Linked DNA regions of Homo sapiens. The protein of the gene in region 2 purifies or fractionates together with the protein of the main gene of each other region. This does not show direct contact. Each region holds a gene or a part of one and is shown on either strand. Other genes may lie near its edges. The genes, in order: IFT140 and TTC21A.

Region 1 (3,811 bases), on a different chromosome or scaffold from region 2:
TTAAGTAAACACATTGTAACATTTCTGCCATATATTTGTGATTCAGTTGCCTCTGCACCATGTCGCTATGCTGTGGGTCTGTCCTGTGTACTGTGTGATGGTGGGCAGCATCCACCACCCACCCACAGGGGTCCAGCTGAATCCTCCCCCAAAATTGTGACAACAGAAAATGTGACTGGACACTGCCCCATGTCCCCTGGGGGGCAGAACCAACCCTGGTTAAGAAGCCCTGAGCTAGACAAACAGGCCTAGGGAAAAGTGACAGTATCTGGGCACGTATCTTTACGAATGCAGTTTCCCAGCAAAGTTCATTTATAAAGGTGCAGACACACCTTTGCCACAGAGTGGCAAATTTTCAAGCCTTGCTTCCAATATAAAACAAAATCTACAATTGCATCTGACAAGATCAACTGAATTTGGCAACAGCACGGTTCCCATATTTTGATCTTTCATACTCTCGAGCATGGTCAGAAAGGGTCAAGGTCTGAAAACAGCGTCTTGCGCGTGTTGACTCACCCTGTCCCCAGACAGCAGGCAGTTTCCACTGGGGCTCCAACGGAGCACGGTGATGTCGGCTGTGTGTGTCAGGGGCATCGTGTGCTGCTCCTTGTCCTGCTTGTTAAACACCGTCACTTCTCCAGTCTCCCAGCCCACAGCCAGCACCAGCCGCGTCGGGTGCCAGCACAGGGAAGCAACCCGGAACGGCCTCTCGACGTGTGTATCTGGCACGCACTCCCCCTGCATTGGATGAGAGGCAAATTCCCACAGTTCAGAGAGGGACAGCTACTTTTAAGAACTTCTGTCTAGGCCGGGCACGGCGGCTCACTCCTGTAATTACAGCACTTTGGGAGGCTGAGGTGGGTGGATCACAAAGTCAGGAGTTCGAGACCAGCTGGGCCAATTTGGTGAAACTCCGTCTCTACTAAAAATACAAAAATTAGCCAGGTGTGATGGCGGGCGTCTGTAGTCCCAGCTACTCGGGAGGCTAAGGCAGGAGAATTGCTTGAACCCAGGAGGCAGAGGTTGCAGCGAGCCCAGATCGCACCACTGCACTCCAGCCTGGGCGACAGAGCAAGACTCTGTCTCCAAAAACAAACAAACAAACAAACAAAACTTCTGTGTGATCTGTGGACTCCACATTGGCGACAAGGTACAAAAGCTATTAAGGCAATGGGGCAATGTTCTCAGTAGACTCTTTAATTTTTCATAAAAACGCACCAACCTTGCCCCTAGCTGAGCTACCAAAGCAGAAGGTAACTTGTGCTCAGCTGGCAACCCCGACCAGCTTCTCATGGAGTGCCACCTTGTCATGATGTGCCACCTCCTCCCCATGGCTGCTGGATGGCTGGCACGCATTTTAGTGCGTGGCTGGGTTCCCTAAAACCTTATCTACAAAAACCACCAGCGAGCCAGCAGGTGAGGTTTGTGGCCCCAGGGATCTCAAAGTGTTGTCCAGAGACCCCAGGACCCTTTCAGGGATCTGAAAGGTGAAAATTATTTTCAGAATAATAGTGACAGGTTAGTGCCATTCATACTCTCCTTCTTTCACGCGTCTACAGTGGAGCTTTTCAAAGGCTGTGTGATGTGGTGATGTCACTAATGACAGCTTGTGAGATATGTGCTGCGTTTCCTCTTTTTTTTTTTCTGAGATGGATTCTCACTCTGTAGCCCAGGCTGGAGTGCTGCAGTGGCATGATCTGAGCTCACCGCAACCTCCGCCTCCAAGGTTCAAGCGATTCTCCTGCCTCAGCCTCCCAAGTAGCTGAGACTACAGGCGCGCCACCAAGCCCAGCTAATTTTTGTATTTTTAGTAGAGACAGTGTTTCATCATATTGGCCAGGCTGGTCTCAAACTCCTGACTTCATGATCTGCCCGCCTCGGCCTCCCAAAGTGCAGGGATTACAGGCGTGAGCCACCGTGCCCGGCCATGTGCTGTGTTTTCTAAAATTTTCTAAAGCAGCAGCTTTGGGGAAGATATAAGTGCGTTTTCAGAGATTAACTTGGTTTGCCCCCAGTTGTTCCACTGGGCTTAGGAGCCATCTTCTGTGATCTCATCATTGTCCAATAGATCACTATTTTGAAATCCTGAAGTTTTCCTTGTGCCAACTGGAAACACAGAAATATGCTATTGACTAGTTTTATAATAGTATGCTTTAGATCTTCTAAATTTAAAAATTTTACCTAAAATTGCTATAACTTTGGAATTTAATAATATTTATTTTAAAAAATATCCCATTTACCATATATGTTATAGGCTCCTGCAAGGGAGAATCTACCCAAAAAAATGGGCAAAAGTGGGGTTGGTGCTGGGGCTGGACTGAGCCCTAAGTCTGGCACGGCCTTCGCAAAGCTGCCAGTATATGGAGGAGCCTGCTGGCAACAGGGGAGCCGCTGACCAGCGCTGCATCGCGCTGCAAGGGCGTGTGTGTGTGTGTGTGTGTGTGTGTGTGTGTGTGTGTGTGTGGAGGGGGGAGCAGTTCCTAAGGGGCCACTTAGCCACTTTCACCTGAAGGATTAATGCATTAATTACAAAAATGGATGAAGGAGTGTCTTCTTTGCAGGTGGCACAGCATGTGCAGGGCTGGAAGGCCGAGGAAGGCTGTGCAAGGCTGTGTCAGCATCAAGGAAGGTGAGCCTGATGTGACAGGTGACAGAGCCAGACCTGGGAGGCGCTAGGGGCCACATCAGGGACTCCATGTTCACCCAAAGAGCAGCACAGGGCCGGGGAGGTGGGAGCAGGGAGTGATTCCATCTGTGATGCCAAGACAGGCCAGGCCTGGTTGCCGTGTAAAGTAGAGGAGGCCTGTGAGGGCACAGCTGCCACAGTAGGAAGCTGTACTGGTGTCCAGGAGAGGGGGATGGGAACCTGGAGGAGGGAAGGGCGGTTGGAAGGGCAAGCAGCAGCAGACTCGCCAGAGGTTCCGGGGGAGAAACTGGGAGGATCTAGTGATGGATTACAAGGTAGGGGAGTGGGAAATGTCAACAGTCATGCCCAGGTTCTTGTTCTAGAAACCAGGATAAAGGGGGTGACTTTCATTGAGATGGGAGGTGCCCATCTCAGTGAGCAGGAGATATGAGGCAGGGGAAGGGTGGGGGACAATTTCAGTTCAGTTTTGTACAGTCTGAGGTCTCCTTGAAACACCCTAGAGATGTCAGGAAGGCAGCTGGGTCCCTAAGCTTACAGCTCAGAGGGAACTTCTAGGCAGGAGATGTATGTCTGCAAGCCACTGGGGATGCTCAGATCACAGGAGAAGGAAGAAATGGAGAGGAGCCCTGACCAAGCTCTGCAGAAGGCCATGGTGCTCACAAGCTGGAAATGGAGGAAGAGCTGGCAAAGCCATGGAGGCCGGGCAGGGAACGCCCTACCCCTGCGCTCTCGGGCATGTTTCCCAGAGGACTTCACAGGAGTGTGGTACAGACAAGGACCCCAAAACACTCAGGGGGTGACACCTAGAAGCAACTGATGACTGTCGCTGCTTGGGTGAAGTTGTGGTGGCAATAGGGAGCCTGCAGAGGGCTGAAGAGTGAGTAGAGGAGGAAACCTCATTTTCTTATTTATTTATATTTTTTGAGATGGAGTCTCACTCTGTTGCCCAGGCTGGAGTGCAGTGGCGTGATCTCGGCTCACAGCAAGCTCTGCCTCCTGGGTTCATGCCATTCTCCTGCCTCAGCCTCCTGAGTAGCTGGGACTACAGGTGCCCGCCACCACGCCCGGCTAATTCTTGTATTTTTAGTGGAGACGGGGTTTCACCGTGTTAGCCAGGATGGTCTTGATCTCCTGACCTCATGATCCACCCACCCCGGCCTCCCA
Region 2 (3,811 bases):
ATGGCTTCTACTGGTCCAGGCCCCTTGACCCCAGCTAGGGCCTCAGGGACCTTCGGGCCTTTTCCAAAATTTCCTCCCTGATCTTGGGGTAGTCGGGGTGCTCCCTGAGGACCTGGAACAGAGAGAGAATGGGTGTGCAGTATCATGCAGGTTTCCCCACCACTACACCAGGCCCTCCCCACCAAGGCTGCTGGCTTACATCGTTGCAGATTTCAATGGCCTCCACAAATTTCTTGTCCTTCAGGTAGTTGAAAGCAAGTTTGAAGCCTACCGGGGACATGGAGAGCAAAGATGGTGGCACCCTGGTGACCTGAGAACCCCTCTGGTTCTCATAACAGCCAGGGTACAGGCCTTGAGTTCTGGGGTCATGGTGGGGGCCCTCCTGCCCACCTCCCTCCCACGTCCATTCACGTGCACCCTGGCTGGTTGCCTTACCAATGGCAGGGTTGGCGTGATGACTGTACTTCCAGGCCAGTTTGTAGTTGGTGACTGCATCCTTGTAGGACTGCTCCTTCTCCATGATGAAGCCCATGTACTCATAGGCCTTGTAGCAGGACTGCAGGGAAAGCCAGTTAGAGCCTCTGCAGAGCGGAAGCCCCAACTGGTTCCCTGGGCCAGGGTGGGACTGGGACCAGAACCAGAAGCAGGCAAGGGACAGAAGTGAGCTGCCATAAACCAAACTGCCAAGGGACCCCAGGGGTACCCCAACCTTTGCAAGAAGCCAACTGTGTGCCCTCCTCTCAGCTACCCCAGACACTGGCGTAACCCCTTTCCCTGTAGCCCTCCTGTTCCGCCACTCCCATTCCTGGCCTGCTCTGACCTGCAAAAGTCCCTCCAGCTTGGAACCCATGAAGCTTTCCCATCTCTTTCTGTCCTTTAGTGTTCCCTCCTCTGGACATAACACGACCCCTGTGCACCTCCTCTCACCTGGTCCATCGCCCTTGATCCTCATTCCTATTCTGGTCTGTCGCCCATGTGCCCCTCTCAGCCTGCCTCTTCCCGACTAGTTCTTATTCCATATGGCCTCTACCTGCAAAGCCTGCTTCACCTTCCTGGAATGCCTAGAATCCTTTCCGCCATCCCGCAGCCCTAGTGTGTGTGTGGCTCCTTGCCTTGTTGTATTGCACACAGCGCCGCAGCAGTTCTAAGGCGAGGTCGAACTTGCTGCCCTGGCAGTAAATGTCAGCCAGCAGGAGCCAGCTCTTCTCCAGGTCCTCAGCCTCACTCAGCACCCAGGGGGTCTTGGCCAGGCGCTTCAACTGCATACGCGCCTTGGGGATCTGCTTCAGGAACACGTAGGCTTGTGCCAAGGCCAGCAGGGCAGGGACGCTGTCCTTCTACACACCAGGTAGGAAGTGGACGTCAGCACGTGTTGGCCGCCTGGTCTTCTCGGCCCTGCCACCTGCCCATGCCCGCCAGTCCCCACCAGCCACACCTCAGCCTGCGCTATCTGGATGAAGCTGCCCAGCGCAGCCTCCATGTTAGCCTTCTCCCTGGTGGCCAGCCGGCAGAGGCCCTGCAGCAGCCGCAGCTGGGTCTGGCTGGAGTCTGAATGTGGGTAAAACTCACGCAGCAGTTTCTCGGCGGTGCTCACACCCTGCTGCTCCAACTCCTTCTTCTCCATGTAGCTGCAGGTGTTAGACCTGGGTATCAGACACAGGCCGGTGGCCTGCCCGTGTGGCCCTCACCTGGCTTCAACCCAGAGGTTGCAGGCTTTCTGTAACTTCCCCAGGGTTCCGCCCCTGCCTCCATGGGCCCTTACTTGCTCTCAGCTCCCTGGTTCTCAAAAGCCTCTCCGCCCACAACCTCGTTGTCTGGATTCAGACAGATCTGCACCATGTGGTAGATGGCGCTCTGGCCCCAAGTGCTGTCCTTGCGTGCCTTGTTCAGGAACTTTAAGGCTTCGTTGGGCTGCCCTATGTGCCTGTGGTGGAGAAAACACCAAGAATCAGTGAGGGAAACTGAGGCCCAGACAGGGCAGGGATATACAAGGACCACTTTGTGAGTCTGCACAAAGCAGAGGCTGGATCTCTGGTTTCCCAGCTCCCCTGGAGGAGATGCGGGCGTCGGACCTGTGTGTTGGATGCAGGCTGGTGGCCTGCCCAAGTGGCCCTCACCTGGCCTCCATCCAGAGGCTGCAGGCTCTCCCTGACTTCCACAGGGTTCCACCCCTGCCCCCATGGGCCCTCACTTGCTGGGTCCGGGTGTCCTGGAGGCAGAATTTCTGCTCCTTTTGTGCAGAGCAAGGGCCTAGCCTATCTGCCAGTAGGGCTTCCTGCACACAGCTGCCCCTCAACACACCACACCCAACTCACCAGCAGTAGATACCTCTGCAGTAATTGAACCCTGGTTCCAAAGGCACCCGGCTAGACACCTTCTTGGCCAATTCAAAGAAGGCAGGAATGTCTTCAAGTTTTCCACTTCTTCTTAGCAGATCGATTAATTTATGCAATACCAAAAAATTGTCTAAAATAAGAGACAGAAATCTCCAGGCTGAAATGCCCAGTAGCTGTTATCAGATGAGGGTGCTGGGGCCCTAGGAGAAGCCAAGAGATACTGCCCATCTGGGCTGAGCAGGGACATTCCAACAGCTCCAGAGTCTCCACTGGTCTCCAGGGTTGAGTAAAGAATAATACTAATGCTTAAAAATAGTAAAGAATAGCAGCTAACACTTATATAGCACTTATATTGTACCTGGTATTAAGTGCTTTACCTATATATTAACTGCAAGATTAGGTAGGTACCTAATCTTTTTTTTTTTTTTTGAGACGGAGTCTCGCCCTGTCACCCAGGCTGGAGTGCAGTGGCGTGATCTCGGCTCACTGCAAGCTCTGCCTCCTGGGTTCATGCCATTTTCCTGCCTCAGCCCACCCCCGAGTAGCTGGGACTACAGGCACCCGCCACCACGCCCGGCCAATTTTTTTGTATTTTTAGTAGAGACAGGGTTTCACCGTGTAGCCAGGATGGTTTCGATCCCCTGACCTTGTGATCTGCCCGCCTCGGGTTCCCAAAGTGCTAGGATTACAGGTGTGAGCCACCATGCCCGGCCTAGGTAGGTACTCTTATTGTGTCTGTTTTACAGATGAGGACACTGAGACATGGAGAAATAATTTGCTGAAAGTTGCACAACCAGTAAGTGGTAGACCAGGACTCAGACCCAGGCAGCCTGGCCCCAGCACCCATACTCCTAACCGTGGTGACCTCCTGGGCCTATGGGCACACTGCCATGGGCCTGCCAGGGCTCCAACCTGAGCCTCAGGTCTGGCCCCTTTCCCCAGCAATAAGGGGTGGTTTTACGCTGCAGTGAATGGGAATGAAGCTATACAACGGGGGAGAATTTCTAGTCCCTACAAGTGGCTGTGACCTCAAAAGGGGACTGTGTCAAGCCCCATTGGCTGTGATTTGGGGACAGACATGCTGTCCTGGGTCCAGTGCCAAGTCCTTGAGACCAGGAACTGGCCCCTTGGACTCGGGAAGGGCCGGCACGTTCCACTGGGTCTTTATCAGTTTCCTGCTTCTCTGGAACAATCAGGGAGGAAGGGGCTTCCTCTGCCCAGTCAGGAAGGAGGGAGAGGTCCCACCCTTCTCTGGGAGAGCGGCCCTTGCTCAGTGGGAACTGGTACAGGCAGTCTCCATGGGCAGAATTACCTGGCGCTTTCTCCAAGACTTGGTGGTAAAGATTGATGGCCGCTTCATGTTTCTGTTTTCTAAACATCAGGTCAGCCATCAACTATCAGAAAACACACAAAGCTCCAGATTTCCCAACAGTGGCAGCTTGCATGGGTGTAGGGGGAGGCGGGGGGTATGGGGG

Evidence for each region.
Region 1: the proteins of TTC21A (region 2) and IFT140 purify together in Homo sapiens (co-immunoprecipitation; one study listed by IntAct). This does not show direct contact.

The regions. Positions count from the first base shown.
Region 1 is NC_000016.10:1,601,854-1,605,664, forward strand, and holds part of IFT140 (intraflagellar transport protein 140 homolog), read right to left. Parts: intron 2,630-3,811; exon of another isoform or gene 2,562-2,629; intron 739-2,561; coding exon 517-738; intron 1-516. UniProt on the Homo sapiens protein: Component of the IFT complex A (IFT-A), a complex required for retrograde ciliary transport and entry into cilia of G protein-coupled receptors (GPCRs).
Region 2 is NC_000003.12:39,135,012-39,138,822, reverse strand, and holds part of TTC21A (tetratricopeptide repeat protein 21A), read right to left. Parts: intron 3,731-3,811; coding exon 3,649-3,730; intron 2,494-3,648; coding exon of another isoform or gene 2,467-2,493; coding exon 2,316-2,466; intron 1,925-2,315; coding exon 1,763-1,924; intron 1,644-1,762; coding exon of another isoform or gene 1,629-1,643; coding exon 1,436-1,628; intron 1,338-1,435; coding exon 1,113-1,337; intron 618-1,112; exon of another isoform or gene 557-617; coding exon 436-556; intron 268-435; coding exon 200-267; coding exon of another isoform or gene 143-199; exon of another isoform or gene 113-142; coding exon 35-112; 3' UTR 1-34. UniProt on the Homo sapiens protein: Intraflagellar transport (IFT)-associated protein required for spermatogenesis. Required for sperm flagellar formation and intraflagellar transport.